Regions from separate parts of the Homo sapiens genome. Here regions 1 and 3 are each linked to region 2. The links come from fine-mapping of genetic effects on gene expression. A gene starts in region 2. Each other region holds a variant in brackets. All regions are shown on one strand. Distances are from middle to middle. Region 1 overlaps PIGR (polymeric immunoglobulin receptor). Region 2 holds the start of PFKFB2 (6-phosphofructo-2-kinase/fructose-2,6-biphosphatase 2). Region 3 overlaps PFKFB2 (6-phosphofructo-2-kinase/fructose-2,6-biphosphatase 2).

The links.
Region 1: its variant is fine-mapped to the expression of PFKFB2 in whole blood (TOPMed, PIP 0.96).
Region 3: its variant is fine-mapped to the expression of PFKFB2 in whole blood (TOPMed, PIP above 0.99).

What each region holds. Positions count from the first base shown.
Region 1 is chr1:206,923,042-206,934,060 of GRCh38, forward strand. It overlaps PIGR (polymeric immunoglobulin receptor), which reads right to left. Exons shown (of 11, transcript NM_002644.4): 7 at 9,945-10,125; 8 at 9,415-9,536; 9 at 8,630-8,761; 10 at 8,456-8,514; 11 at 5,481-7,372. The coding sequence ends at 7,277. It also overlaps a transcript of FCMR not described here. Among named protein-coding and RNA genes, the nearest start is that of FCMR, 6.6 kb to the left of the region's middle. RefSeq lists enhancers at 1,994-2,443, 6,561-6,610, 7,081-7,370, 7,297-7,797, 7,421-7,990 and 1 more. The variant T/C (reference allele first, on the strand shown) is at 5,904.
Region 2 is chr1:207,049,316-207,059,987 of GRCh38, forward strand. PFKFB2 (6-phosphofructo-2-kinase/fructose-2,6-biphosphatase 2) reads left to right here and starts at 3,960. Exons shown (of 15, transcript NM_006212.2): 1 at 3,960-4,051; 2 at 5,386-5,487. The coding sequence starts at 5,403. YOD1 (YOD1 deubiquitinase) reads right to left here and starts at 1,893. Exons shown (of 2, transcript NM_018566.4): 1 at 1,373-1,893; 2 at 1-408. The coding sequence starts at 1,715. RefSeq lists enhancers at 1,457-2,027, 3,251-3,890.
Region 3 is chr1:207,072,890-207,083,908 of GRCh38, forward strand. PFKFB2 (6-phosphofructo-2-kinase/fructose-2,6-biphosphatase 2) reads left to right here. Exons shown (of 15, transcript NM_006212.2): 15 at 1-4,928. Among named protein-coding and RNA genes, the nearest start is that of C4BPB, 10 kb to the right of the region's middle. The variant G/A (reference allele first, on the strand shown) is at 5,284.

The DNA of each region.
Region 1 (11,019 bases), 130 kb before region 2:
CAGGGCTCTGTTCCTGGAAGTTTCATCCCTGGAGGTCAGTTCTCAGGGCCCCAACCCCAGGTGAAAGGACCTCTTGTGCCCCTGGAGGATCCGGGCTATACTCACACTGTTTCTGGGGGGATGTGCCTGACAGACCCGGGCTCCACAGTGGTTGTGTCAGCCACTCCCTGCTCGCCCCCACACAGCAGATTTGTCACATGTTCTCTAAAACAACAACATCCGTGGTGGAAGTTGAATGTGAGGCTCAGAGCAGGTGCAGAGGAAGTGTGTGGGGGGGTGGGCAGCCTGCCCTGCCCCATCCCTATCTGAATCTCCCCTGGCCCGGAGCAGCTGTGGTTGTGATGTCCTCCAGCCCTGAAATGGGCCAAGATGGCAGAGGGCAGCCTCGGGCCTCTCCTTAGTGCCAGAGCTCCCAGCTGGGATTAGCCCCACCCTTCCCTACTTAGCGGGCTCTTCCCAATGCCCCAGAGCTGTCACACAGCTGGGCTCCACCATGCACTGGGCTTGAGGCCTGGGGCTGTCTTGGAGAGACAGAGAAGGGGAATATGAGTGAATGAACGTGATGTGTGTGGGGGCAAGAGTGTGTGAGTATGAATATATGTATGAATGAATGTGTGAGTGTATGATGTGTGTTGTATGACTCTGATGTTTGAGCGTGTGAAGTATGTGTGGTGTGTGTCTGAGGTGTGTGTAAGGGTGCAATGTATGTTGTGTGATACGTGTGTGGTGTGTGTGTGGTGTGTGGCTACAGTGTGAGTGTGTGTAGTGAGTGTGAACATGTAGTGTGTGGCTATGAGAGTGTGAGTGTGTTATGTGTAATGTGTCTGTGTGAATGTATGATGTGTGGCTATGAGTGTGTATGTGCTGTGTGGTATGTGTGTGAATGTAGGATGCGTGGCTGTGTGATGTATGTGTGTGTGTGAATGTGTGGTGTGCGGCTATGTGTGTGTGCTATGTGTTGTGTGTGGTATGTAGTTATGAGTGTGTGTCACTGCGTGGTGTGTGGCTATGAGTGTGTGTGTGCACACTCTATGCTGTGTCTAGTGTGTGAGTGGTTGAGTGTGTGAGTGTGTGGTGTGTGGTTATGAGTGTGTGTGTTCTCTGTCTAGTGTGTGTGGTGTGTGGTTATGTGTGTGTGATTGTGTGTGTGGTGTGTGTCCATGAGTGTGTGTGTGCTCTGTAGAGTGTGTGAGTGTGTGGCGTGTGGCTATGAGTGTGTGTGTGCACTGTGGAGTGTGTGTGTGGTGTGTGGCTATGAGTGTGTGTGTGCTCTGTGGAGTGTGTGTGTGGTGTGTGGCTATGAGTGTGTGTGCTCTGTCTAGTGTGTGTGGTGTGTGGTTATGTGTGTGTGATTGTGTGTGTGATGTGTGTCCATGAGTGTGTGTGTGCTCTGTGGAGTGTGTGAATGTGTGGTGTGTGGCTATGAGTGTGTGTGAATGTGTGGTGTGTGGCTATGTGTGTGTGCTATGTGTTGTGTGTGGTATGTAGTTATGAGTGTGTGTCACTGCGTGGTGTGTGGCTATGAGTGTGTGTGTGCGCACTCTATGCTCTGTCTAGTGTGTGTGTGGTTGAGTGTGTGTGTGGTGTGTGGTTGTGTGTGTGTGGTGTGCGTCCATGAGTGTGTGTGTGCTCTGTAGAGTGTGTGAGTGTGTGGTGTGTGGTTATGAGTGTGTGGTGTGTGGTTGAGTGTGTGTGTGTGGTGTGTGGTTGTGTGTGTGCTCTGTGGAGTGTGAGTGTGTGTGCATGTCTGTGAAGATCAGGGTTTGGCTGGGCTGAGGCTGGGGCCTGCCGGGCAGGGCGGAAGGTGTGTGGGATGGGAGTGGGCAGGAGAGCTTTTTGCATCACGTGTGGCCCAAGTGAAACCCTGAAAACATCCCATTAGGTTACAAGACTTAAGAGTTAGGGGTGTGAGGACGGCTGGGCAGGCGGCGAATGTCGGGAGTTTGAGGGGATCAAAATCCCCAGAACTGGGCTTGTTCCATTTACCTTTAGCTGTTGCCCCTGGGTCATGGGGGTTGGGGCCCAAGGGAAGACTGACTGCTGGTGAAATTGTGAACTTTACAATTCTTACATCCTTATTTTCTTCTTTCTTTTTTTCTCGTCTAAGCTCGATTTCTCCTTTCTGACTCACAGGGCTACCATGGTGCCCTGGCACTCTTACTCCCAGGGGAGTGTCTGCCAGGCTGGAGCACACCATGGGGCAAGGGAGCCAATGGCCCAACACCCTCTAGGGTCCAGAAGGGGTGAACCTGATGGAAAACATTCACAGCCCCCCGACAGCGGGTGGAGGGAATAAATAATGCCAGATCCAATGGAAAGTGAAGTCCTTGAGGTGTGTTCATTCGCTCTGTATGATGACCTTTTAGCTTAGGCTCTGCCATCCTCCCTATGTTACAGATGGGCTAAGAAGAACGTTTCTCGTAAGGCAGTTGTGAGGATCACATGAGGCAAGTGTTACAAGGGACTCAGCACACAGCCTGCGATGTGGTCAGAGTGCAGTGGAGATGAGCCACCGCCACTGGGTGGAGCTTGTTGTCATGGGTTCTGCTTGGTTATTGCTTTTCTCTGCTTTGACCTCCGCATGGCCGGGTTACAAGGGCCATTTTCTGGGCCTTCCCAAACTGAGGGCCTCCATCCTCAGGTGGTCCTCTCCATGACCCAACACTGTTCTCTGCAATGACAGACCACAAGAATCTCCTTGTCTGGTGGACTCACCAAGAACAAGCCCCCTCCCCAGGTAGAGGTACCTGACTCAGGGACCCTGTTGTCCCGTCCTTCCAAGCACCGCAGGACCCCAGGCTTGCCTGTCCCAGAGCAAGCCACTCCACAGCAGCAGGGCCTTGGAGCATTTACCTTTACAACAATAAGCCCATTTGTGACTTTTTTTTTTTTTTTGGCAGAGTCTCACTTTGTCCCCAAGCTGGAGTGCAGTGGCGCGATCTCGGCTCACTGCAACCTCCGCCTCCTGCGTTCAGGCAATTCTCCTGCCTCAGCCTCCCAAGTAGCTGGGATTACAGGCGCCCACCACCACGCCCAGCTAATTTTTGTATTTTTAGTAGAGACGGGGTTTCACCATGTTGGCCAGGATGGTCTCGATCTCCTGACCTTGTGATCTGCCCGCCTCGGCTTCCCAAAGTGCTGGGATTACAGGTGTGAGCCACCGCACCCAGCCATGTGACTTTTTTAAAGATAATAAATGGTAGGATTTTGATGACTAAGATTTCTTTCCTGACTATGGCCATATTCCTATTGGAGTTCTGAGGTTAAAACTCCAAATATGCAGGACTTTTGGATCAACTTCAATGTGACATAACAGCAACAACCTGGATTTTAGGATATTCATGTCCCTGTATCTAGGACAAAGATTTTTGGCTCTAGGGAGAGTGGCTTGGCTGCCCTTTTAAGAATCAGCCTTGGAAGAGACACTCCAGAGCTGCTTGGCTCCTATACCGATGATCCTCTCTCCATGCCTGCCTTGCTCCACAGCCTGCTGGGACCTTTGGTCTCAGTCTCACAGCTTGCCTCTCAGCATGTCCACTGTCCACTTAGACATGTAGCCTTTTTGAGATGATCTCTTATTTTTGTTGCGCAGACTCCTTAGTAGAGATAATTATTTTAGGAAAGCTGGGAGGGATGGGGTGGGAAACTCTACTTGTTTCTCTGCCTGGGGGACCGGTTTCATAGACCATAGCACAGTCAGTTCCTCTCGCTGCTGTTTAATGTTCTTAGGAGAGATGTTCTGTCTTGAGTTTTGGAAAAGTCTAAATCAGAGATCTATTTTTTAGCTTTACAAAACAAAATCAATTGCTATAAACAAGTTCCTGGCTGGGTGCAGTGGCTCACGCCTGTCGTCCCCATGCTTTGGGAGGCAGAGGCAGAAGGATTGCTTGAGGCCAGGAGTTCCAGACCAGCCTGGGCAACAAACAAGACCCTGTCTCTACCAAAAAAAAAAAAAAAAAAAAAAAAAAAAAAAAAAAAAAAAAATTCCTAACCACTGTTTGGCCTTAATAATGCCCAGCAGTGGTTGAGCATTAATAATAGTTGGGCCTTCATAATAGTCCTGTTGGGCCTTAATAATAGTCCTGTCTTTACATATTGGACTTTTAAAAAAGAATAAACATTAAGATAATTCAAGAACTTGGGAAAGATTTCCTTGTCATCAAATGTTTAAACAGTTCCTTGAATGCTCGGGGCCACTGACCGTTGCTAATTGGTTTATCATCATCAATCCTGCAGTTTATGGTCACTCCCCTATACTAAGCTGAATCATATCCTCTCCAAACTCACGTCCACTGGAACCTATGAACTAGCTTCCTTATTTAAAAGGGTTTCTTGTGCTACACGGGGAGCAGATGGACTTTGAGCCTTACTGACAATATCACTTAGGAATAATATAAGATCGCTTTTGGCTTTAGTGACATTTCTTGACCTTTGCTTCAAAGGGCTGGGATAGGCTACACGAGTTCAGGACTGGCTCGCTGGTTATTGCAATGCGTACAGAAGTTGCATCTTAATCCTCTACCATAAACATGGCCCTTTGGTGAGTCAGAGAACAGCTTCCTGGAAGGGTAAGACAGTGGTAGTTTCTGACACACCTGTCATTTTGATCCTCCTGGAACGATTTGCTGTCATTCCAGAAGGTATGCATCCCCATCACAGAAGAAAGAAAAAAACATTTCTGATGCCCCCTCTTCTGGCTGGATAGAAGCCCAAGACTCTGACCCAGGTCAGGGCCTGGGAACTGAGACTGGAGTACTGCAGTTAGTGGGGCTGGAGGGAACACCAAAGGAGGCCTGAAGTCTGAGTCCCAGGAAAAGGTAGGCTTGGGAAGCTCATAGCATCCACAGCATTATGTTTAAGGCCTGGGTGGAAGCAAAGGTTCACATCAGGCAGGATGGCAGACTGGGGAGAACTCTCTTGCAGAGAGAACTCTCCACACACAGAAGCCCTGTGGAAGAGTCTAGGGGTGAGATGGGGGGCTAGCTGCCAACAGACAGCTTGGGCAGCCCTTAGAGGATATGACATGGTTCAGCACCAGAACCTAGGAATGATCTTAACAGACAAGGGGGTCCCAGGGTGCCTAAAATTGGGACCAAAGCAAAAGGCAGCCAGATGCAGTGGCTCACATCTGTGATCCCAGCACTCTGGGAGGCAGAGGTGGGAGGATCAGTTGAGCCCAGGAATTCAACACCTGCATAGGCAACATGGCGAAATTCTGTCTCTACAAAAAAATACAAAAAGTTAGCCAGTGTGGTGGTGGACGCCTGTAGTCCAAGCTACTCTGGAGGCTGAGGTGGAAGGATCACTTGAAACCAGGAGGTTGAGGCTGCAGTGAGCCATGATTGCACCACTGCACTCCAGCCTGGGCAACAGAGTGCCCTGTCTTAAAAAAAAAAAAGGAAAAGAAAAAGAAAAGAAAAGCTCTGAAGAGGCTGTCTGGGAGACAGAAGGTATTGGGTGCAAATACAGTCTGAGCCTCGTTGGTGGCAATCACAGTCTTTAATCATTAATTGTCATATTTCTGATTTGTTAGCAAGTGCCAGCTTGTAGGCTGGTTGAAGTACAGAACTCAGAGGAAAAAAGAAATTAAATTTTAGCTTTCTGGAGAGCAGCCCCTCTCTGGCACCATCAAACACTTCTTTGTTTCCCTTCAACTTGGAACTCTTCAAACATCAGGGGTTGTGAGGGTTTGGCCATTCTTTTATCTTGGGTCCATGTGAGTGACAGAAATGGTGCGGCCTGGGAAAGATCTCCCTCCTTTACATTTTCTCTTCTCCCTCCTCCTCCTTATTCTAAAACTGTGCCTCCAACAGAGGGGCAGGGGCTCTTGTAGAGAGATCCCTGGCCCAGGACAGGAGATGCCAAATCTAATTTATCTCACTGAGGGCCTTTGAGAAAAACGC[T/C]TCAGGGCCAGGCTCAGTGGCTCATGCCTATATAATCCCAGTACTTTGAGAAGCTGAGGCGGCAGATCACTTGAGGCCAGGAGTTCGAGACCAGTCTCGTCAACATGGCGAAACCCTGTCTCTACAAAAAAAAAAAAAAAAAAAAAAAATTAGCCAGACATGGTGGCCCACATCTGTAGTCCCAGCTACTTGAGAGGCTGAGGCATGAGAATAGCTTGAACCTGGAAGGCAGAGGTTTCAGTGAGCCGAGATTGTGTCACTGCATTCCAGTCTGGGTGACACAGTGAGACTTTGTCTCAAAAAAAAGAAAAGAAAAAAAGAGGCCGGACGCGGTGGCTCACGCCTGTAATCCCAGCACTTTGGGAGGCAGAGGCAGGCGGATCACGAGGTCAGGAGATCGAGACCATCCTGGCTAACACGGTGAAACCCTGTCTCTACTAAAAATACAAAAAATTAGCCAGGCGTGCTGGCAGGCGCCTGTAGTCCCAGCTACTTGGGAGGGTGAGGCAGGAGAATGGTGTCAACCTGGGAGGCGGAGGTTGCAGTGAGCCGAGATTGCGCCACTGCACTCCAGCCTGGGCGACAGTGAGAGACTCCGTCTCAAAAAAAAAAAAGAAAAAGAAAAACGCTTCACTCTTCCAAACCTCAATTTTCTTATGTGTGAAATGGTAAGAATGTGGGTTTATAATTACCTGTGTGTATGCTCATCATACATGACCCCTAAGGCCTTAGGACTCGAGACATTTTATGACCTCTCCCAATAGGGGCAGAGGTGAGCACCCCTGGTGAAAAGTTAAGACTCAGTGAGTATAAATACGCCAAGAAGAGCTGTGGCTTCTTTCACTGGTGTCCTCAGAAAGGCTGTGAGCAGTGTTGGTGGCATACCTGTCACAGCATCTAGCAAAGCACCTGAATTCTAGTATGAATTCAAATACATCTTTTGATGGAAGGAAAGAAGAAGAGGGGAAGGACGGGAGGGAGGGATGGAGTGGAGGGAAAAATTCTGTTGACATCCCATGATAAGGGTGCAGAGGGGCGCTGCACGTCTCTCCTTTCTGCAATCAGCTCTCCCACCCTGGTCCCTCTTCCTTCAAGGGACCCATGAGGACCTCTATTCTTCTCCGTACCTGAGGTTCTCTCAACAGAAAGAAGTTGCAAGTGGGACCTCCTCATGCCACCCTCATCCCCAATAGGAACAATTAGGCCAGGCTTTGATGTCACTGAGGAGGGGACCAGCACGCCTCTGAGGACAGTAGGAAAAACCTAGGCAGGTGTTAGAGCAGGGAGTGGGGTCCCCAGGAGCTGAGGGCCCCAGGATCGACATGATTCTGAAGGTGATTGTCATGGGTGCAGGGAGCAGGCGGCGACACCGTCTAGGCTTCCTGGGGGCCGTCCTGGGCCTCGGCGGCCACGGTGCTGGACTGGAGCAGGAAGTCTTTGTAGGCCATCTCGGCTTCCTCCTTGGATGACTAAGGGGCAAGAGGAGAGGCATCAGTGTTGGGGGCACTGGCTCAGTGGGTGGAGTCAGGGGAGGGGAGGTGCTTAATGTCCTGAATTCGTGATCTTGGTCCAAGCAACACAAGCCTTTGGGGCCCACTGTTCTCATCCCAGCCCCCATGCTCACCAAGAAGGACGCATTTTGAGAAATGGAAAGTTGCAGCCTCTAAAAATATCTTCTTCTGTCTCACTACCTCCTTCTGACACACGGAGTGGAACCGCCTCTGTTGCCCGGGCCTGTCCCCGGAAGCTGCCCACACAGTCCACGGGCAAGGTGGCCTAGGCTGGGGTCAACCACGGTGGTGTATGTTTTTCTTTCTCCACCAGCCCAGACAGGTAGCTTTTTGGCACCACAAAGTTAAAGGGGAAGGCTGTCCCAGGAATAACTCGTTCTAACTTTGCTAAATGCCAGAGATGTTTCAAGAAAAAGTAGATATGATAAAAACAACAACAACAACAACAAAAACTCTCACCTCGGGATTAAAGGCATGAGATGTTATTTTTCTTGGTCCCCTGAGTCCTAGGGCAGATTGAGGGGATGGTATATGGCACCCAAGGCAGGAGTTGCCTCTGGTGGGGCTTCAAGAGAAGTGAGCAGGGGCTTCTAGCCTCAAACTGCCCACCGCAAGCAAATGTCTCCTAGGCCCAGGCAAAAAGCTGGTCCTGAGCAAACCCTCAAGGGAGGATGTGTGGCCTGAGGTCCTTGGGTCCCCCAACCCAGGAAGAGCATCCATTTAATCACCAGCATTTGGCATTGTAGCTTCCCATCTTTTATGCACCTGCTTTCCTCATCTCCTGGCCTGCCTCTCTCCTGCAGTTTTACAGCCTAATCATATAGCTCACCTCCTTCCTGGGCCTTATCCACATCAGCATCCCACAACCAGTAAGATATAGTTCTTCCTCAAAAAGTCCTGAGGACTCCTGAGGACTATTTATATCATCCTCCCTATTCTGGGATCGGCCCCCATGTTGAGGTAGTTCTTTCTGAAGTCTAACTGCATCCCCTCATGCTGCATTTCTTTGTCATGTAGTGGGGCTTCCTTCTTCCTCCTCACCCTTTTTGCCTTCTTGGGTTCTTTGGTCTCTGTGGTGCTCTCAGTGGTGGCAACAAACTCTGTGTGAAGAAAGAGGGTAGGTTAGCCCTTACTAGCCTCCTTTTCCCAACCCAGATGTGAGACCAATTCTTACTCTCCCCAGGGGCTGAGCATTCCCTTGAGTGAGGGTCATACCTTCTTTTCCTCCGAGGGATGTCTCCTGAGTGATCGAAGAGGCTCCCATGTTGTCATTGGCTCCAAATTCCCTGGAGTTCTCGAAGTCTGACATGCTAATGTCTGTCCTGTAGCTTCTGATTGAAACTCGGTCTGTCCGGGAGGAAGAGGAGTTGGTGTAAGGACAGGGGCTGGGACCTAGAAGGCCAGGCTGGGCTGCTTCTCTCTGGGCGGATCCACTGTAGCCCTGCAGGACAGCTGAGGTGGTGCAGCTCTGACTATGACCCAGGGGGATGGAAATGATCCGAGTCTCCTCCCCAGTCCCTTTTCCTGGGTAATCAGGACTTGGTAATCCCTGATCTTTGTCACTCTGGGACCTTTCAATGCACAGCATCTCCTTTGGTCCTCACATCAGCCCCGTGAGGTCCTGATTATCATCCTTGACTTGAGCCATGAGGAAACTGAGGCATGGCATAAGGATGGCTCAATGTCACACAGCTCATTAGTTATCCAATTAGTCCAAGCCCAGGGTCTCCTGAAACCCAATCTCCTCTTCCTGGCAGCCCTGTCTCTGAACCTAGATCCTGGGTAATTGGAGATGATTTTCCAGTGTTAGTATTTGGACAGCAGCTCTGAATTTCAGTTTCGAGTATGTGTGGGTTTATCTTTCCCCATCCTGCTTTCTCGGGATCCTTTGTTTTAGCTCATGAAAAAGAAGAGACACAGCAGCTTCCTCTATGGGTGGATGATTCAGGACTGAGGGCTCGGGTTGGAGGTGGGAGGCAGGGAGTATCCCAGGGACTCACCGACGTTCTTCCTGTGCCGGGCTCTGGCCACCCCCACAGCCACGGCTCCCACTGCCAGCACCAGGCCCAGGGGCACCAGGGTGGAGACCAGCGCTCTGGAGCTTCCACCTTGTTCCTCAGAGCTGGAAGAAGGCTTAAGTTAGTTCATCCCTGGAAGGGAGATCTGGGGGCCCGACGATGTGCTGGCAAGGTTGGCTTAGTCCTTTTTCCTCCCAGGTTTATCCACCCCACCCTGCTGATGCAGCTCCCTAGCTCTGTTCTTCTAAGAAGCCTTCCCAGACTGGCAAAGGCACGCACTGGGCCTTGTTGCATCCTAGGCCTGGAAGATTGAACTGAATTGTAAACACCTCCCCAGCCATGGGAGAAGGGCAGAGGGTACCATAGGACCCTCCCACATATAAGCAGAGGTAGTAAGGGCTGCCCCAGTGCTCAAGAGACAGATGGGCTTTCCTCCTTGGACCTGGTGGCCCAGCCTCAGGTGCTCGGCTCTGGGGTGTTCTCCGAGTGGGGAGCCTTGAATCCTTCCTTACCTGCCGGAATCCACAGATGCTCTGCTCCCATCGGCTTGATCTCTTGTATCTGCCACCGCCTTTTCCTCTGCAAAAAGCCTGGGATCCTGAATGGCTTTGTTCTCAATCTCCCGAAAACCAGAGTCTAGCACCTTCTCATCAGGAGCAGCGTCTGCCTTCGCTAGGCTGACATCGCGGGACCCTGCAGCAGGGAAGAGTGGGCCTGGGTTGTGATTTTTCTCTATGCTCTTACTCCTCGAGGTGAAGGAGTCTGGGGGAGACTTCATGAGGAATCACAGGGTCAGGGTTCGATCTCAAGGCTGTTGGGGTAGGACCCAGGATGACATTAGAAACAGCTGTGATGGCCTTCTTCAGCTGTCACAGATGATCTCTGCCCCATTACTACCAAAAGTATAGTGGGGACCTTCAAGGCTTCGTGTCATAGACCAGCTGTGCATAAAGGCTGACCCATCACTTATGCCCGGGAGATTTTCAAGGCTCTGAGACGCTGCCCCAGGCTTCCTGACTGCCCAGCTGGGTATGATAGTGCTGCCCCCTGGAGGTAGCCTGGCGATGGGCCCCTCAGTGAGTCCCATCCGCAGGGTCCAGACCCAATAGGATTTCTTGAGGGACTACAAATACCCTTATTAGGGCTAAAACATTTCATGTGAAATTTTAAAAGGGGACTTGAAATGCAAATTTACTAGATGTTTCCTAATTTTCCTGATCAGACCTTGTAAATGAAGGTATCTGGCCCTCTTTCGAGGGCGAGCTTTGGCAGGGGGAAGGGGGATGAACATATTGCATATGACAGTGATGTATGCATATTATTCTTCTATACAGAGAAGAATATTTCCAGATATAGAAGAGACTTCAATCTGGGTTGAAGTGGCAACTATGGGACTTGTCTTTTTTTTTTTTTTGAAATGGAATCTAGCTCTGTTGCCTAGGCTAGAGTGTGGTGGCACGATCTCAGTTCACTGCAACCCCTGCCTCTTGGGTTCAAGCAATTCTCATGCCTCAGCCACCCAAATAGCTGGGATTACACCACCATGCCCAGCTAATTTTTGTATTTTTAGTAGAGACGAGTTTTCTC
Region 2 (10,672 bases):
CCCCAAAACGATCAATTCTTACTGTCTGTGTATCCACTACACATATTTCACATTGGTAAAACTTGGACAAAATCGATATCTCTATTGCTCCTCCCCAAGTGTCATCCCTTTTGATCCAGTCACAGTACTCTTGATTTGTTTTTCCCAGTATTGCCTCACTATAGAAGTCTGGATCGCTTGCTACAATTTGTGCTATGAGGCGTCTCATCTCAGGGGCACAAGCTGGATTCAAGACTCCTCCTTCGACGACATAGTACACACTAGTAAAGAGGCAAGAGTTGTCTGCTGGGACCACGGTTCTGGTAAGCACAGGCAAAGTTTCCCTGACGTAACTAGAAGCACCACGTTTAGTAAATGCAGGTGAACTTCTGGGCCTGGTTTGGTCTTCTTCAATGATCAGCATGTCACCTGTTAAAAATAAAACAAATCCCGATCTGCAAAGAAATTACAGAAGAAACCGAGTGTTCTCTAGCCAAGTCTGTAAATTACAAACTGAAGGAGTTAAAGCATAAACTGGGGTTACTAAGGAGAATACAGTTTTGCAAGTAAGTTACCAGTAAGAATCTTTGTTCACTGAATTTTCATAAAGATGAAAAAAGAACAAAAAACACTTGAGGTTGCATCCCAATTTAGTGAAGGGGTCTGGAGTAAACAACTTCAAGCTTACCTAAAAAGATACATTTCAAAAACAAAATTTCCTTTCCTTATACAGTATTTTACAGAAGGTGCTCACTACAGAGTAGGCCGCTAGGGGGTTCTCCTTCTCCGGAAACTTATCTACTCTAGAGTGTTTACAACATCCTTGATACAGCAACTGAAAGCTTTTAATTATAAACACTGATGTTCAAGTTTTGATATGGCACAGAAATAACTGCTGCTGGTTAGAAATTGAAAGAGCTTTCAGTGGGTGTTTTAAAAGCTAACTCGAAAATGAGTATGCCTGTCAAACGAAGTATCTACGAAGGGGACTGCAAAAATGAATCAAGAAAAAAAAAATCCTGCACCCTTGAGATCTCATCGGTGATATAGGGAAAAAGAGACATAAGGACAGAGAAAATAGGCCCTACTTTATATTTTTGTGGACGCCGAGGGAAAACAAAATGGGATAGTTTCAAAGCCGACCAGAAAGCGGAATGGGGAAGGGGGTCTTCAAGGCTTTGGGTTCCCTTTCAACCCTGTGTCAAGACAAGGAGTTGCTAGACACTTGCCCTGGCCCCCGTCAGCATTCTCTGTTCTTTGATCTATCCTCGCCCCTGGCCTCAAAGCCCCCCCGCCGACTCACAGCCACCTTGCCTTGACTGGTGTTTTGTTCTCTCTCACGCCCCTCTCCATCCTCCCGGGACTTTCCCTGGCCCCAGCCCTGATTCCTTACCAGATTGGATGGGCAAGTCTTCCAGAATGGTATCCCCATTGCTGAGATCCAGGCACTCGGGAGGGTATCCGACGAGGATTCGCTGACCGCCGGGGGCGATCCCGGTGATGGCGGCAATTTGGCCCTGGAGTTCCCGCACCCGGGTCCGGCTGGACAGCCCCTGCAAAACATGGGTGCCGTCCTTGGCCTTGCAGCGGAGCCGCCACATCGTGTCGGTCCGGCTGCCCACAGGCCAGGCACCCGCGGGGCCAGCTTTGGTCCCGGCAGCCTGTTGGGAGACGCCGCCGGGGAAACCAGGCGCCGGGTGGACTCCAAAATGGCGACCTTTAGCGGGGCCAAACATCGCGAGAAGTTGCGGGTGGTTGCAGTTATCGCGACGCTTCGGTGCGGCTTCTGCCTTAGTACCTTAGCAAGCGCGAACTCTTTTAAAGTGACAACTGATTTTTCCCCCACCCTCAGAACGAAGATGTAAACCTCCGTATTCCTAAAGGACAACGGGTCTTGCTACCTATAGAGCGAGTGAGGTGCCCTCCGCGTGGGTAGCATATATGCTCAAGAAAAGAGGGCGGGGGAAGGAGTTCCTGAATGAAGGTCTGGAGATTGGAATGTGACCTTGCACTTAGTGAGGTCGGAAATTATTAAATTGGGGCTTCCACACTACACCCAGACTACACCAGGAGAAACAGAATCATAGTTCACAACGCAAACGAATGCCAGGAATGGTCAGTGAGTCAAAGGACCAGTCAAAAACAATCACACTTGTGACTAGACTCGTGGCTGCATTAAACATTGACTCATTGGGGTTCCAGGGGCCAAAAGACTGGCCTTTCTGCCTCCCTGGGACTGTGCTTGAAAACGTCTATTTGCCACTTCAGAAAGCACAGTATGAGGTCAGCATCTGGGCCCAGGGCAGCTGCCTCATTCAGGTGGTGGCAGTGTAAGGAGGAGTCGTGTAACGCGTGTCATCAGATTCCAGTTCAGTTCCTGGGCATACAAATATGAAGACTTCATTCCTGCCTTCATTGTAACAAGTATTCATTGCAGTTGGGAGACAGGGTGGGGTGTGAGACACACAGCCACTGAATTTCAAAGCAACGTGATAATGCTAGATTATCTGTACCTTTTCAAACGTGTATGCCTAGAACCCAGGACTGTGCCTCGCAAATAAAAAGTGTTCAACAAATACTGGCTGAATGAATAAAGACAGAGTTGTATAGACATAGAGAGGGCAACTAGAGCACTCTGGGAGTTGTAAAAAGCCTTAAAGAGGAGATAACTGTTTGAACTTTTGGAAGAATTAGTTTAATTCCCAGGCGAAGGAGGAATAAAGACATCCCTGAATTTATATCTCTCTTTTCCAAGAAATCCATACTCATTGTTCTTTATCCAGCCGGGATTCAGACAGCAAGTCCCACTTGCCAAGAGTGGGTTTATCAAGCATCAAACGGGCCCGCTGGGGCAACTATGAAAAGTGTAGTTCACTTGGTGCAAACTCACCTCCACTGTAAAAGACTTTGCTTCTGAATAAATTATATGTAATGTTTCCATCTTTTCACATCTTTCATGACTCAATTTTTTTTTGCTGGTGCAATTTTCCTCCTTGGTTCTTCAAGACGACTGCAACGGATGATACAGCCTGGGTTAGGGGGTAGGTAGGAGGGAAGGTAGGAGTGGTTAGAAGTCCACCGGGGTGGCCGGGCGCAGTGGCTCACACCTGTAATCCCAGCACTTTGGGAGGCCGAGGCGGGTGAATCACCCGAGGTCAGAAGTTCGAGACCAGCCTCATCAATATGGAGAAACCCCGTCTCTACTAAAAATACAAAATTAGCTGGGCGTGGTGGTCCATGCCTTTAATTCTAGATACTGGGAGGCAGGAGAATCGCTTGAACACGGGAGGCAAAAGTTGCGGTGCCAAGGTCGTGCCATTGCACTCCAGCCTGGGCAACAAGAGCAAAACTCCATCTCAAAAAACAAAAACCAAACCAAACCAAAACAAAAAAAACTCCAATGGGGTGTATGGGTGGGTCCAGGGAAGCTTCTGGTTCAACGATGAGAGTGGTTGATTTTCTTAGGTCACAGCGTCTGACCTGTGGAGCCGGGTATGTATACACCCTAAGGCATAATTAGCTCAAGTGTTGTGGTAGTTTATTCTAGCAAAAACATCTTTAAAGCTTACGTTCCCATTTATGGATCTAATGAGGTTCTGCTGGGATTCAGGAATGAGAGCGTTAATCTTTGCAGCATTTTCTCGTCACCCGGCACACCCGCTCTCAAGACGCCTACCGAATAGTCTACTCTCGCGAGAGTCAGAAAAAAGTCAAGCTTTTTATTAACACCGCCCCCAGCCCTATTAGTTACCAAGCAACAGTGCCACCAGGCTCCTCGGCGCTGGGAAACTCAGGAGCTTGTGATCTCTCTGGTTCCGACTTCCAGCCGCCTTCCCGAGCCAGTTAGGCGATTGCGACCCTGCCCCGCCCCCTGGGTCCTGCAGGCGCCCGATTGGTGGATGATTCTCTCCAGGTGAGGACCTACGCGCGAGGGGGCGGGGCCAGACGGGCTCACATGATTTGCCGGCGACTGTAGCGCCGGTCCCGGCCACAAGCTGTCGGCTCGGTTCGGTCGCGTTACAGGGCAGGCGCCGGGGCCAAGGCAGGGAGGGATCTTAGGAGAGATCGTAGGGTGAGCCACAGCTGCGCAGCCCCGGGTAGGGTCTAGCGGGGCGGGATGTGGGGGCTGCGTGCCCCCGGATGAAGTGCGGGGAGAGGTGCTGGTCCCCAGGCATGGCAGGCAGCGCGGACGTTCTGGGACCGGGAGCCACAGTCTGTGTTTGGGTTGGAGGATTTGTGTGGTCAGTAAAGGAATCGTGTAAGGCTCTTGAAGGCGCAGGATCTTCCGTCCTCACCAGCCCCCTGTTGTCTGAATTGGGGGCATGAGCTCAGGACTTTCCCACTCCAGTTTGAATCAGGGCTTACCCCTCTTCCTGAGGTGACCTTGGGGAAGTCATTTACCACCTCAGCGCTCCGGCGTTCTTTAGACTGAGTCCCGGGGGTAACTAGGGAGAGGGTGCGGAGCAGGGCTTGAGAATGCACTAGAGGAGAAATGACGACGTGCTAGGGCTGTCTTGGGGTCCAGTTACTGTTTTTCCTTCAGGGAATATGTTCGAGATTTTCCCACGTCCCTCACTTTTTTCTTTTCTTTCTTTCTTTTTCATTTTTCATTTTTTTTTTTTTTTTTTTTGACAGAGTCTCGCTCTGTCGCTAGGCTGGAGTGCAGTGGCGGGATCTTGGCTCACTGCAACCTCCGCCTCCCGGGTTCAAGCGATTCTCCTGCCTCAGCCTCCCGAGTAGCTGGGACTACAGGCGCGCACCACCAGGCCCGGCTAATTTTTGTATTTTTAGTAGAGACGAGGTTTCACCATGTTGGCCAGGATGGTCTCTATCTCTTGACCTCTTGATCCGCCCGCCTCAGCCTCCCCAAGTGTTGGAATTCCAGGAGTGAGCCACCGTGCCCGGCCTCACTGTTTGCAAAACTGAGTCCTACCGTTAGATTGGAGTTAATTTCCTGGTAATGTACTTCGTCTATACATAACCCACCCCACCCCAACTGCTGCCACTACTCTGCCCAGATTCTTAAAACTAGAATCTGAGGTCATGAAACCTTGAGCAGGACACTTAATTCGATGAATCTCAAATTTTCAATCTGTAAAATGAGAAGAAATAATGGTGGCAAAATCTGCCTAATTACAAGATTATTGTTAGGACTGAAGAAGATAACGTCTGTAAATGTAGACTCGTAAGTCAGAAGATAAATGTAAGGTTCTAGTGCAACTCTTTTTATAGGTGAGGAAACAGAGGGCTAGAGAAGTAGCTGCTAACTGGGAGAAACAGGACTGAACCTGCCTCTTGGCCCAGGGTGTTTTTACTTATACCACACGGATCCAATGCACTGACTTTTTTTAAGTTATGTCTTCTTTCTTCCCCTTCCCTTTTTTACATTCTACTTCTCTGTTTCAGACATCTGAAGAGCTGCCATGTCTGGGGCATCTTCCTCAGAACAGAACAACAACAGCTATGAAACCAAAACCCCAAATCTTCGAATGTCAGAGAAGAAATGTTGTGAGTTCTGGCAGAGAGGAGGGACTGCTCTCTCTCAGCATTTTATCTTGGGAATATAGTTATAATCCTGGACTCTGCTGCTTGGTGGGAGTGATAAATAATTATTTGACATGGAAATTTAATGCAAAGTCTCCAGGGTAGAATGTCCTGTCTAAAACAAGTAGACTTAGTGAAATGTCTGTTCTTGGGGCTTGACTACTGGTGTAGTCCAGCAGTTTCTTACTGCTTTCTTAAACTGAATCTCTGTCTCCTGGGATGTTTGCACACTGGCTTGCTGATGGAAGTTAGAACTAACATTATTGTACACACAATGAGTAAGGCACAGTTGCAGGTGCAGGAATTACTTGGAGCTGGTAATGTTACCAGCTTTATCTGTTGGGCTAAGTTTTGGGAGAGTGCTGCTCATTGTAGAAATTGCAGATGGGAGCCAGTGCTGCTTGGTTTCCTTCCTACAGGCCTGAGGGGAATGAGCCCTGACACTTGGCTTCTCACAGTGTCTTGGGCATCTTACTTTCTCACAGGTTTAGCCTTTGTACTTTGTAAACTATTTTCCCTATAGGTTCATTTTTTTGAGGACAGCTTTCACATGAGCATTTTCATTTCTATGCCTGTCTTTTAGATAGAAACAGCAGGAGGGTTTGCGAGGAGATGAAGCATCATTTCCTGTCCCCAAGCATCTGTATTTCTAAGCATCATAGGCTGCATAGCTTCCCAAAAGATCTGGGACTCTGTTCCCCACATATTTTGGGGAACTTCAAGGAATGCTAACTCTTGCCTCTGCTTCTGGATGGCACCATTCCTGCAGAATCCTGTCAGTCAGTTCTTCTCACTTCAGTGGTTATATATATATATATATATATAGCCAGTTAGTCAAGGAATATATATATCTCAGCAGGTGGAAACAGCCGACCAGCATGAGACCAGGAATTATCTCATGTTCAAAGCTTTTCCCAGAGCCTCGACCTTGATGTCATGCCCTTGTCAGTTTCATGATTGACAATGATAATCTCTCTTCACCTAGCACCCATGGAGCCTGCTGGACAGAAGCAGCTGGCTGGATGTGATACTGGGGTTGGCAGAGTTAGGGTCTACAATTAGGGTCTCTTTTCTCTGCCAGGGCAAGAAGCCAGGTGCTAAGGGCAGAATACCCCATGAGAGATAACTAGTATAGCATGATGTTTGAGTATAGCCTCTGGAGTCAGACTGCCTGAGTTTGAATCCCGGGTTTATGACTTCTTAGCTCTTGAACAAGTTGCTTGTTCTCTCCATGCCTCAGTTTACTCCTTTTAAAAGTGGGAATACTAACAGTGTCTCCCCCAAGAGTGATGTGAGGATTAAATGACTAAATGTAGGAAGGCGCTTAGAAGAGTGTTGGGCATATATCTAATGTGTGTTATTTTTCACAGGTGACTCAATCTGCCTGTTGTATTTATTCCTGAAATGTTTATATTGAATCATACTCAAATGCTGTATTGGAAGCTCACTATTTAAAAGAGGGCTGTGAATAATTATTTTTTCAGTAAAAAATGTTTTCTTCTCTTATTTGACAATATTGTAACCCAGATTTGGGGATCTAGGATGCACCTCTTACAGGGAGGTACACTAATGTTACTAGGGTGCTTGATCCAAAAGAGAGCTGGGGCTGGGGGGCAGGATCGATAATTGTGGGAGTCTCTGACTACACGATGCCATGTGTCAGTCCTTCTAGCTTTGCTTTTTTCTCCATGGTAGGAATCTCTTCTACCTGCTTTCCTAACTCTTCTGTAGTTCCTTTGCCTTGAGGGCTTTCAAGTCAGGGAAGCAGTAATCCCTGGTTTCTTTCCTGTCTTCTAGACTCTAATTCCTGCTCTGGGCTCTAATCTCTTTTTTTCCATACTCTAGTTTCTCTAAATGCCTTTTTCTTCTCTAAGAAGAAGAAGGTGTCCTAAAGCCACTGTGATTTATTTACCCTATTCTCTCCTCACGTCACAGTCGGGCTGTGAGACTGTTGCAGACATAGTCAAAGGAGAAAATAAAGTTATGAGTATATGTGTTAACTTACTTCCTTTTCCTCTGCTATAGAGCTGTACTTTGGAGCTGGTTCACCTGGCAGCTTAGTGTTCACATCAGCGGCTGCTTTATTAATAGCTTAACCGTTGTTCCCTTGCTGCTCATTACACCTGTGTTGGCTAACTTTGACTCCGGGAAGTGACTGGGCTTGAGGATTTCAGGGCTGAAGAATGACTTTAGGGAGCCAAAACCTCCGAAGGAGCATTACTGGGACTTCAACTGCTCCAGGGATGGGGCGAAGAGGGGCTACTGGCCGAGGTGCCTTTACGGTGCTCAGAGGACTGGTTTCAGGGCTTATGAAAGCAGAAATGGAGGGCCGGGTGTGGTGGCTCACGCCTGTAATCCCAGCACTTTGGGAGGCCGAGGAGGGTGGATCATGAGGTCAGGAGATCAAGACCATCCTGGCTAACATGGTGAAACCCCGTCTCTACTAAAAATACAAAAAAACTACAAAAAAAAAAAAAAAAAAAAAAAAAACTAGCCGGGCATGGTGGCGGGCGCCTGTAGTCCCAGCTACTCGGGAAGCTGAGGCAGGAGAATGGCTTGAACCCGGGAGGCGGAGCTTGCAGTGAGCCGAGATCGCGCCACTGCACTACAGCCTGGGTGACAAAGTGAGACTCCATCTCAGGGGGAAAAAAAAAAAGCAGAAATGGAGAAATCTACATGCTTTTTTTTTTTCTTTTTAATTTTTTTTTTTGAGTAGTTCTGGAACAGACAAATTCTTCCATGTACCTTTCCCTAAATACAAAAGCAATGTATGTTCATAAAAAATTCAAACTACAGAAAGGATTTAGAAAGCGAAAAGTAAAAGACTCCTGTTTCTTCCAAATTTGATTCTTTTAGACATCTTATTCTGGTATATCCTATTAATAAAGGTAGGTTCATATTGTTCATATTCTGTTCAGCTGCCATTTCCTTTTTTATTTTTTTAAATAAGTTACTGTCTTGTGGACATCCTTTTAATGTTGATAAATGCAGATTTACCTCATTCTGCATTGTATGGATATGCCAGCTTTCCACGGATAGGTATTTAAATTGTTTCCAGTTTTTCATCATCACAAAGAGTGCTGCAGTGACCATTCTTACACGTACACCTTTGCACATTTGTGACAGCAACTTTTCCTACAGAAATAATAGAAAAGATAGACACATTGGAAATGTTCATCAGTATTACTAATTTGCTCTCCTAAGAAGTTCTATATTGTAAGCTGTTTTCAATATTTTAAGATATTTGATGGAAATTGGGCAGCATCAACTATAGCCATAGTGGTTAACTGAAACATCAGCTTTCTTAGTGTTTGACCGTAGTTATACGAACTTGGTTATTTCATGCCTGTCAACTGGCAGGAGATAATCAGCAGTTCTGACTTCTGATGAATAAAGATAAAATGTCACTAATGAAACATGCTTTATGGGCAGCATATTTCTAAATATTAGGCCTCTTTAGAGCCAATAAAAGAAGACGTCCTGGGTCCTGAAAAGGCTGGGAACCATTGCTCTCCTAGACCATCCTTCAGGATTAGAATGGAGAGCAAGTTGTGTTTACCGTGAGGGAACCTTTGTCAAGTGCTGACATGAGGCACAGGAGCTGGCAGCTGGGACTGAATGGGCAGTCATGAGATCAGGAGACTGGTCAGAACCCTGACCTTGACTGTCTATTGTGGGACCATGGGCAAAGCTCTTAATTTCTCCAGGCTTGAGTTTTTCCATTTACACGAGGGAAGTTATCAAGTCCTCATTTTTTTTGTAAATCTTTTTTTTAAAATACATTTATTTATTTATTTTGAGACCGGGTTATGAGACTGGCTAATTTTTATATTTTTAGTAGAGATAGTGTTTCACCATGTTGCCAAGGCTGGTCTCAAACTCCTGGGTTCAGGCGATCCACCCAACTTGGCCTCCCAAAGTGAGGATTACAGGCATAAGCCACTGCGCCCAGCCTCAAGTCTTCATTTTATCTAAGCAAGTTTATGAAAGGAAAATGAGTTTAAGTTTAAGAAAAGGAGTTGAACCTGGCTTAAAGAAGGTGGAAGAGAATTTCAGGATTGAAACAGTTTTCCATTGTCTATCAAGAGATGGGTTACATTGTCTCTGAAATTAATCAGGTGGCAGTGGCAGGTGGTTTTGTTTTTTAACAGGCAGGACAGAATGTTCCTACTTTTGCCAGTGTGGTAATTTGAGATAGGAAGTGTGGTTTAGTTTTGTACTCCAGAAAATGAGAAGCCCTGGTTGTAGCAGGTGTGCTTAAGTGTATTCTGGACAGAGGCGAGAGGTGCGTTGCTGGAGGGCTCTTGGGAGGTCCCAGTGGATGCAGTTTTTTGTTGTTGTTGTTCTTAGCATTCTCTGTCCACATGGGTAAACAAGAGCAGCTGGTTCCCTGGTTGCCTTCAGAGCAGCTCCCAAGTATCAGTTCATTTTAAACTTTAGGGAGGGTAATAGGACCTTCGGGGGAAGTGCCTAATGGGCTGGAAGGTGCGGACAAAGCAGGCCTAGAAGTGCAGGTAATGAGCCAAATCATGGGGGATTGAGAGCAGGCATTGAGCCGAGCTGGAGAAAGTGAAGACTCAGGGGATTTTACTACTTAAACCTGAGACAGCTGATCCCATGCAGAGGCTATCTGCTTGTTAGGGGCCAGTGATCAGGGATTAATGCCAGCTGAGGCTTCAGGGTACAGTTTGCTTGCCTTTAAGCTCCCTATTTGAACACAGATGAAAATCACTTATGTTGCTCCTTTACCTACCTTGGAGGGGCTCCTGCTGAGACTCAGGAATTTTCCATGTGTGCAGTGGGTAAAGGACTAAAAGCCAAGCCCTCTGACCCCAGGTCTGGGCCTCCATTTCTCCCTCCTCACCACTAGGGTCACTCTGAGTACTTCTTGCCAAACACCCTTAGGAAACTTTTCCTTCCGAGGGTGGTTCTCTACCTGGGCCCCTCCTCCCACTTCTCCATTGAGATCTTTCTACATTTATTTCTCAAAAAATGAAAGTCATATTTCCCATCCAAGTACCTCCATTTTACAGAACTGTTTCTTAATCTTACAAGGTCCCTTAGTACCAGGCAGAGGGGCAGCCGCAACTTGCAGGGCACCTTCTGGGAAGCAGTGGTGGGAAGTGGGAGGTGAAGGTGTTTCTTCCTT
Region 3 (11,019 bases), 24 kb after region 2:
TGTAATGCATGGCATTGTGGTGTCTGTCTAGGAAGGAAGGGGTGATTGACAAGAGACAAGTCTGGCCCAGTTAATGCTTTCTGCAGTGGGTCTAAATGGATCTGGACTGGAGGAGTCTTTCCTTTCCTTTCTCCCTTCCTCTCCAGCCAGGTCCTGTAAGGGCCAGCCCAGACTACAGGACATCCACAGAATATTCTGGAGCTTGCAAGTAGACATAGGGTGAGAGTTCTTGCCTCCTTTCATGAGAAACAGTTCTAAGTCTTCGATGCCCTGGGAGAATCTGGCTCTGAGCATGTGGGAAATGTCTTGGTTTTTATTTTTAATTTAGAGTCAGGCCTGGGTCTTTTGAGGTCTGCAGAGTGGGGTTTAGGAGAGTAGGGTGGGCTCTAGCTCTTGCAGGGCTCTTAGAGAGCAGTCATGTCTTTTCTCCCATGACTCTCAGGTTCTTTGCCAATCACAGCAACTTTTCCTGCCAAAGCCAGTATCCTCTGGGGCTGTTTAGAAGGGCAGTTAGATTCAGGAGTCACCACTGATGTTTGAGTTGCTCAAGGCAAGAGGCAGAGAAGAGTTCACTAAAACTGCTTATTTTTGAATAATTTCAGCACACTGTCCTTAAGAAGAAAGAAACATCAAAACAAAATAGTTTTTACATGACCATTTTTTTCCCAAATGTGGAAAAGCTTGATGATGAATTTAATCTCTCTCATTGGAGTATTCTTTTGTTCATAAAGAGAAACTATCTCATCTTGATGTCCAGAGAAGTCCTTGGAACCCTGTGGGATCTAGCTCGTAACTGTTTGTATTTCTCTATTCACTTCTGTCATTTCATTTTCTTTGTAGGGTTAAACAGAAAATGTTTAGGGAAGAAATTCTTAGCCCCTTGATGACCATGATGGCTTATTCTCTTTCCCAATTTTGCATGCAAAATGTACGAATATATGTATGTTTTTCTGAGAGGCAAGTTTAGGGTTCTCATGGGATTTTAAAAAGAGATAGGTGACTCCCCACCTTAAAGTTATCTGCTGGTCTTTTAGAGGTAACCAGTGAGAAGGAGTTAGCTATTTTCCAAGGGTGTTTTCATTTGGTAATGGAAGACTTTTTGCTGTGGTTCTCATCCAGGAGTATTCCTTAGAATTGCCTTTAGGATTGTTGAATCATAAACATGCCTGTGTCCACCTTATGCTTAATACTGACTCAGAATCTCTGGGATCTGGGTCTGGACATGCATGTATTTAAGTAGCTTCCCGGATGATTCTGATTCATAGCTCGGGTTAAGAACTCCACCTTAGGAAGTTAGGTGGAAAAATACTGGATAGTAGTTTCTCAGACAAAAGTGTCAGCCTAGGAATTCTGAATTCCTCATAGTCCTGAAAGGACAGTTCTTTGGGTTTGATGTTTGAGCAGATCATAATGTTAAATGATATAACCCCCTGGAAGGCAGGCTGCTGTGTTTTAGAGGGTTATTCTAGGTTCTAGTCCCATCTTTAACCCTTTACATTGCTGAGTGATGTGGAACAAATCACTGAATTAAATAATTGTCTCTAGAGAGCAGCTGGGGATTTTAAGCACCCTGGAGAGAGGTGCAGACCCTGCCAGGATGATAAAGGTTGTCATCACTGGCAACTGACTCCTGACCCCGGGTCCTTTACTCGTATGTCCCAAGTAGGATACCATAGGCAGCTTCTAAAGGCTGCTTACCTAGATTCTTCTCAAAATTGTGTCCAAGATGTTAAGTAACCTGCTATTCCTGTTTAGTGGTTACATAACATGTACTTAGTGTCTTTGTGGAGCTTTGGGCTGGTAGGGGCAGGGATAGGGGAAAGCTAAACAGAAGTAGAAGAAAAGGTCCTTGTCCAGAGGAAGGTTATTTTAAGAGACAGGACATGTAATTTATAACAAATGGACATTTGCAATATAGCAACAGTCTGAGTCTAGAAGTGTTCAACCATCACATCGCTTCTCCTGACTTTTCTGTTGTCCTATGGCTATGAGACTACAGGGGTTGGGGGATGGGGATGCCCCCACCACCACCAGTGTGAGAATGAGATATGGTTGGGGAGGCGTGTTTGGCACTTTTACAAGGTTGCATTGTCCACATTTGCTTGGATGGTGGCATCTGTAGCCCAAATGGGCATTCAGTCTTTTCTTCTGCTGTGAGGTAAGAGTAATTCAGACCTAATGAATGAGAAGAGGGAGCACTTTGATCCACAGACTTTGGATTAACACTGTACCCACTCTTAGCAAAAGGGGACTTCTCTAACAAGCTAGCATTGTGTTAACCTGTCATTAACCCAGCATTAGAGACAGGTCACTGGGATGTTCATTCTGGCTCTCAGCCTGCTGTTATTTCCCCACTCTCACCTGTGCTAGTTCGCTTTCTCCAGAAGAGGAGCTGAGGTGGTCTTATCCTCAGATAGGACATGAGAAATTGGAATTTGGCAAGCAAGGGCTTCAGCATCCTTTAGTTTCTAAAGCAAGATCCCTTCAGAGAAGTCTAGCAGGAAGAAGCCAGGAGAATGTAGAATGGAAAAGAGCTCTTACTCCAAATTTTAGAGAAGTTTCAGCTCTACTTCTCATCTTTTCTCTCCTGGTCTTACTTGAATGCATGTTGGTAATCTGTATACATTACTATGACTGTGTCTATCACAAGTCCTACAAAATAAAAATGGACTTAAAAGTACTCTCTGCTGAGGCTGTAAGTTTTGTTTTGTGAGAAATAGGTAAAGACATTAGCATTTAATCTACTGGAATAAGCTGGTTGCTGTGGCTTATACCTGTAGTCCCAGATACTTGGGAGGCTGAGGCAGGAGAATCACTTGAGACCAGCCTGGGCAATATAGTGAGACCTCACCTCTAAAAAAGTTTTTTATAAATTTACTTGTCTAAAGTGGGGAAAGGGAAATTATTCTGTTTTCTTATTCTTGCTTCAAGACTATGACAGATTTGAAAGAGAATTCTAAAGCAGATTTAGAGAACCTGCTTCTCTTCTTATCTCCTAATCCCTAAATTGTAATTTAGCTCTTATCTGTATTGTTGTTTTGTTTTGGTAAAGGGATGATTTTTACATTGAGTTTTAAAGTAGAATAAGAAAAGCTTCTAAAAACTTGCATTGTGCTAGGGATCTGCCCTATATCTTTGCCTCTGGTGTTTCGTTGTTGTTGTTATTGTTTGTTTGTTTCCAAAGAAGTTGGAGTTAAGGACACAATATATTTGTACCCCTAGACTGAATGGGTGAGTATTCCATATGAGGATCTGGGTAATCCTCTTTGCAACCCACATTTGGTCTTCAGAGACACTGGCATTTTGAAGAAACATATGATATAGCTGTTTGGAAATAAATTCATCTATGTTACTTTTTTTTTCTTTTTTTTTTTTTTTTATGAGCAGGAGATCTTAATTGACAGAAACTCATTGGTGGTTGGAGTGGCCAATGGGCACGGGAAAAAGTATCCAGTAATCAGAAGAATTGTATCTGGGTTATGTAATCTTATGCACATTCCATTGTCTTTGCCAAGCCCAGAAGCCATGTTGTGTTCATTGTTAAGAAATTTGATAGATTTACCCAGCTTTTCTATGTATTTTGACTTATTGAAAATATGTAACAACTGAGTCGGGTTGCAGCACTGGTGGGGTAGAATCGACTTTCCCTGAAGGTGACACAGATGTCAGAATTGTGTCCAGGGATTTAATTTAGACCCATACTGTCCAGGAGACTGTCTCTAGTTGGATCTCTGTGCTGACTGACTGACAGACAGACTTTAGTGTCTGTGTGCTGACTGACAGACTCTAGTAGTGTCTATATGTTGACCAACTGGTAGACCAGGAGGATCTGTGTGCTGATTGACTCTAGTAGGATCTGTTTGTCACTGACAGACTGTAGTAGTGTCTGTGTGCTGACTGATAGATAGACTATAGTAAAATTTGGGTGTTGCCTGACTAACGGTCTAGGGTCTGTAAGCTGACAGTCTGCCTGCTTTCTGATTGTATCCATTGAAGTGTATGTACATTATGGTAATTCTCTGTCTATTAAATGTGTCTAACAAAGGAAGGAATTAAGCACTCCACGTGTTTTCTTTATAGGGGAGTTCTGTACACTATGATTTTAAATAGATATTTCTTATATAGTAGTGGCCAAATTCTCATTATTTTGTACAAGATAAAGGTTATGCATCACTTTTATGGTATTTTGTGAACTCAGCTAAGGGAATGCCTGTTCAGAGCCTGGAGTTGTTACCTTTACTTGAAGTCATCTCATCCAGTCCCCTGCTTTAGGGCAGGACTTCAGTTCCACTGTTCATTTCTGAAGCTTCTGTGTCCCCAGCTTACCCTGTTCTGAAATGTTGTATTCCATTGGACAGGGCTGCTATTTTTAGTCAGCCATGCATTTGGATTTTACACTTAATCTAGTAAGTAAAAATGAGAAGAAAATTTGGCATTTAAAAATTGATTTTAAGGGTTGGCAAAAGTATTTTTTCCAGTAAGCCTTTCACTGGATATCTGTGACCAATGTTTACCTACGCAATGTTTTTGTATCTGAATTGCTTATGTACGTTTTTTATTATATTGACCTAACAAGAAGATCAACTTATGCTGGTATGGTGATGGTTTTGCTATGGCAAAATCAAAGGGCTGATCATACATGGTGCCCTTTGGGAAGGGGGATGGTGTGGGGCTGAGCACCTCTGGGTTGAATGGGAATGGGTCAGATTGGGAAGCCTAGGAAGAGAGTTCTACTGTAGATTTCCTAGGCACTGCTCTGTTGAAATAGGAACATAAGTCTTTAGCAACATTCTGATTTAATCGGGTGACACTGATAACAAAGTATGCCACTCAGATCCATTTAAAGTGTGCATAACTGTATTTGAAATGTGTTTTTGTGTGCGTGTGTGTAGAATGGGTAAATAAAATTGTTGAGTAACTTGAACCTATCAGAAGGCTTCTGGGTTTTTTGTTTAGTATTTTCAGTTGTGTTTCCCATCCCTTCCCCACCCCTAAAACTTTGCCTCATGCTGCACAAGGATTCAGACTCAGACAAGCCAACAGAAGTTCGCACTGTAATTGAAGACCATGGTGTAGCCGTGGCTCTCTTCTGCCACCTTCTGGGGAAGATAGGAAGAACATTATGGAAAGCACATGAACTTCAATAGTTGTGTGTTCCTGTTGGCACTTATGCAAGAATTAAGAAACAATTACATTTCACTGCACTGTGCAGTAATTCCCATTAGCAACATGTAACTCATATTATGTATTATAAAGAAAACTTTTGGAGATTTTTTAGCACTT[G/A]GTGGACTGTTGTTCCTAAAATGTGATTTGCCCATTTCTAAAGAGATTATGGTCAAGGGTATAAAACAGCATTTAATTTTTTTTGAGACAGGAAATACAGATGGGATTGTTTTACCATTCGCATGCCTTATTCCTTGTTACCTTAACAAAGACCAGAAGCTCATTAGAAATGCAGAATCCCAGGCCCCATCCCAGACCTCCGGAGTCAGAATCCTCATTTTACTAGGACGACCAGGTGATTCATATGCACATTTAACATTTGAGAAGCACTGTTCTAGGGGAAAAATTTCCCACAAGGTAAAATGTTAGATGCCAGTTAATGGGAAGAAGTTGATCTGCTCTGATGACTGGTTTCAGAATGGACTCGTATAACTAAAATAGTAGGGACCCTCCTCAGAAGCCAAGTAGCCCCTGACTACAGTGTCACTTTATTGGCATGGTCTTTTGGCTGACATAGCCTACACGATTTCCTTCTACCAGAGGGATCCTGACTGCTCCTGCTTCATATCTTGGGTATGTAGCTTATGGTCCAGGTCTGAAAGGAGTGCCTGGTCCAATATGGTCACGAGGTCAGCTCCTCAGGGAAAGAAGACCATGACTACGCCATTCGGGTAGTCAAGGTGTGTGTGTAGGCACACCAGTGTGTTCATGCATGTGTATGGATGTGGGGATGGGGAGGTTGAGGGAGGAGGGAAGGTAGGGGAAGGATTCTGTTCTACTTTTATGTTCGCTGCTTGGCAGTGCTGTAATAGCTTTGTGTCTCTTCCTCTCTGGCTCGTAGGCAGCAGAGACCACACTGGCTGTGCGCAGACGCCCCTCCGCAGCGTCCCTCATGTTGCCTTGCTAATGATGTGGATGTTCAGGCCTCACCTCTCCAAACGACTGGGATCTACTGAAAAGCTTGGGATGTCAGCTTCACAGAGGCTAGAACAGGAAGTTAAGTGGGAACTGGACTTTGGGGGCCACCAAAACGAGGCCTGGAGAAACGTCACCATATTTCCTCCCCTCCTGCCTAATGGGAATATCAGTTACACTGAAAAATTTAACTTCCCTGTGCCTCAAAACATTTAGCAACCTGAACCAGTGACTTTTTGTCATCTCTGTGCTGAGTTTGGTCCAAGTTGGTCAATCTCATTCTGTATAGGCATTTAACATCCTACCTGTGACTGTCTGCATCCTTTGCTGGCTCTTTTTTGCCCAAAGTGCAAATGCACTTCTTCAGATTTACTTTTCAAGTGAGAAGGTAAGAGCTGGTCTCTGCCACTGTTCCAGGCGAGCAGGCTAGAGTCTAATATACTTATGCTAGCAGTTACCATTTGCCACATTGGAAGCAAGAGACAAATCACCAGGTGAATGGAGGGTCTTCTGAGAAATTCAGTCCCTAAAACATCTTCTCTGCCTTGATAGAAGAACAGTGTCAGTGGCAACCTTTTCATTTAGAGAAGTTTTTCTTGTTCCAGGCCCTTCAGGACAGGATCTGACTGCAAGACTCCCCAAAATGGGTACCCATCTTCTAAGTTCCCTTTTGTAGCTACTGTACTTTTGACTTGATGCATGTGCCTCTCATGCATCAAGATGGGGCTGATGTGGTTCTCCTGGGTGGTTGGGAATGTGGACTAGACAGAAAAGTAGAGTGCCATTTATATCACGTGAGTAAGTCAAGAAAGCTCCTTGAGAATCAGCCCGATCAGGGAGTGTTTTGGCTTCAGAACAGGTGGAAGGAGACACGCCCCTCTGTGGGCTCTGTCACCATGATACAGTCCTTGAGAGAGCTGTGGCTGTGACTTGGAGGGCAGTAGTCTCCTGATACCTGCCTCTTGGCCACTGGTCACTATTGTGGTCACTGATCTCTCATATAAAAGTGAGGGTGGCGGGGTCATGGACCAGCGCCTCAGTGCATTAGTCATTCGCTTTTCCTTACAGACAAATCAGATAACTCTTCCCCAGTGATTGTCAAATGTATGAATGTATCTCTGTAAATGTGGTTTTGACATGTCACTGTTACTGAAGGAGAGTATGGAATCCCCACAGGATATTATATCTTGCAAGGAAAGTCTATTTTTTAAAGAATAGTATGTTTTTAGCTTTACTTTTCTTTCTTTTCCTTTTCACTCAAATGCTCACTTGCTGGGCAAAAGGGTGAGTAGCAAGAAAAGTAATGATATGTAGCTTTTCTCAAATGGTTCTTTTATACTGTGGATGATACAGGACTCTGTTACCTAAGATGTGATAAGCTGGGCTGCAGGCGGTTCAGCATCCAGCAACTAGGAGCTGCTTTTCTACGTACAAAGCTGCCTTCAGGAAGGCTCCTTACCCTGTAGCAGATGATTTTCATCTGGCTGCCTACCGCATGCTGTACTATAATGATTTAGTTGTGATATGGATTTCTCTCTGCATCGAAAACTGTCTTTTGATGATCAGACAATGTTTATATTTAGTTATTTATTCTATCCATGTAAGGCATTTTTGAGTTTTCTTGTCACTGTTTGCATGTATTTAATCAGAATGTAATATAATTTATGTTGTCAGGTTTTTTTTTGTTTGTTTGTTTGGGGTTTTTTTTGTAGAAATTTAGGTAGTTAGAGCTTTTAAGTCTAATGTCATATTAACTTAAGTTAAATTTCCAGAACGTAGATATCTGTCTTCTGTAAAAGGAAAATAACGATGTTAAGGGACAGTGAATTTTTTTTGAATACTTTGTTTCTCATTGATTTTTATTGTAAGTGTAAACCAAGAGATGCATTTCTCTGGAGAAGTGTTTATCTCCTGGATTAATAAAATCATGCTAAAATATGCGAGTAATATGTATTGCTTTTGTAATAAGAACATAAAATAAAATTATTTTTAATTAAAAATGCAATTAATTTTTAAGATAACACACGAAAAGATAACATTTGGTACATTATATGTATGCAAAATATTAATAACATTGTCTAAAATGTGTTTGAAACTAGCTTCTTTAAGATGATTTTCAAATTATTAGATTATATGTATATTTCCAACTAGTGATTTTAACCAGTTCAAGTTTCATCAGCATTTCAAAATGATATCAGTAAGATTGTGACTACCATGCATTACTGACGTCCTAGAGTTTCATTTATTTATTTAACAAATATTTAGTGACTACCCATTAGTTGCCAGGCAATGACTAAAACAAAGTCCCTGACCTTTGTTTAGAGTTTATTATTGGAAAGGAAAGGTTAACAGCAGGTTTGTAACCTAACGCATCTCTTTCTACTGGGGATGCTTTCCCCCTCATGAATGACCTTCACCAAATAATGTTGGATAATGGTTACATAATGTATATGATAAAGTAACTTGGAACAATCTTTTGGGGTCAGCAGCAATAGAGATAAAATGAAACATTCATAATAACAACAGAGGATTTCCAAATTCTTTAAGTTCAAGGGTTCTTCTGATAGAATGAAAATGACTTATGAATTCTCCAATTTGAAAACAGGTGAGAGACAGTGGTTATGTGTACTGATGAATACATTGAGCTTTAATAATCTAGCTGGTGGGCTGACAGTAATGAGGATGTGGTGTCAAGGTTTAATTTCCTTGGAAATATCTCCAGGCACTTCTGCAAGTGTTCTCTAATTCAGCCATCAAGTCATCATTTGTAAAAGGCTGGGGTGTCTGGAATCATTCTCTGGGTTTTACAGAGAGGTAAATGAGCACCATTACTGAGTCACACACCTCAACACTCGTGATTTTTATAAAGCCAATAATATCTCAGAACAAGGTAAATGTTAAGACCCAACAGACACATGCCACACTGTTTTAAAATGTTGCTGGTAACTTAGCAAAGATACCAGCATTAGAAAATGATTACTCAGCGAGTACTTCAGTGTTGGGTGATGGTCATTATTTGCCTTTCTCCTGTAGGTTTCATCATTACACCATTTCTTAAACTTCTCCAGGGTCTTCACTTAGGACTCACTGTGAGGAGCATCAACCTTCAGGTTCACTAGCTTGCCCTGGCTATTTATTTTTCATTTTTGTAGAAATAGGGTCTCACTATGTTGCCCAAGCTGGTTTTGAACTCGGCAGGAGGTGATGAGCCCATGGGCACTTCCTGTGGCGTCTGACAATGGCCCATCACCAAGGTTTATGGTCTCTAGAAGTATTTTGCACCATCCAACCTTCATTCATTCTCTTGAACTCATTTGAGAATTTGACATGCTAAGGACTCTCTACCCAGAAAAAGGTTGACACATAGGTTTTGCATACAGTTTAGGGAGGTCATGACCTGAAACCCATTCTTGGACCTCAGGGTAGGAAACAGGAGCTACGTAATACTGTCCATACTCTCTTGTCCATTTCTCTCCTTTAACATGTAAAAGAAAAAATAATCCAGTGACATGCATTTGATACTATTTAAGCGGAGGAGGGGAATATATGATGTACTGGAATTTTTTTACTGCACACTGGGATATTTAAGAACGTGGTTTTTAATGAGATAGCATCACTGTAATCATGGAGAGTAATATTTTCTTTCTCTTAAAAACATCAAAGCACAGTCTTTCTTCTTTTATTCTCATCAAGCCAATGTCAGCTGCATTCCTTCAGCCCTTTACAAGCAGAACAACTACGCTTCTGAATTCCCAAAGGCATTTAAATGCCTTTTTGATTGTATGCAACACTCTACCTGTGAAAATCAGATTAGATTCTATAGGAGAGTTTCCCTGCAATTAAGCAAAATAATTTCAGAAGCATAGGAACGCTTGGGAAGCAGCACTGTAGCATGGGGTCTACTCTCAACATGTTTAATGCCCTTCACCAAACATCCAGCCTACTTTCAGAGAATAACTTGTTTATCCATTTGGGTTTCCTTCATCACTGATATGTTTGCCTCTTCATTGCCATTCAGTTTTCACTTCCTAGGTTCTCTCCTCTTTCCCCCATTGTCTTTGTAGAATTTATGGATGGGAAGGGAAACTGTGTCAGAGTATGCTTTAATAAAGTCTGTTAAATATTCTTTTCTGAATTTAAATTCCTGAGTCATTTCACTCAAACTCTGTTTCAGATTAGAGTTGGTTTCAGCTGTGGATTTCAGTAAATCTAAAATAACAACTCCAAGGTCACATTGGTTCAGGCTGGTAATCTCAGCTCTTTGGGAGGCTGAAGCGGGAGGATTGCCTGAGGCTAGGAGTTCAAAACCAGCTTGGGCAATATAGTGAGACCCCCCCCCCACCCATCTCTACAAAAATAAAAAATAAATCAGACAGGAATGGTGGTGCACACTTGTAGTCCTACCTACTCGGGAGGCTGAAGTGGGAGAATTGATTGAGCCTGGGAGTTTGATGCTGCAGTGAGCTATGATCATGCTACTGAACTCCAGCCTGGATGACAGAGTGAGACTCGCTCTCTCTCTCTTTCTCTGTCTCTCTCGCTCAAAAAGAACAATGTGTTGGATTCTACTTCATAGAGGAAGGTGGCTACTCCAGTTGCAGAAAACATGTTTACACTCTGGCCAGCAGGAAGGAAGAAGGCAACAGGACATACCAGCTTCTTTTAAGGATATTTCCCTTCTCATGTAACCCATAAATATATACACCTACTGTAAAGTTAAAAATTAAAAAAAGAATATTTCCTAGATTTTGCAAGCACACTTATGCTTATACCTCATTGGTCAAAATGTAGTCAAGTGGCTACATACAGCTTTCATGCAGGCTGGAATATTTTTATTCCAAGTGGCTTTGTGCCAGTTATAATTAGGGTTTAGTTACCAAA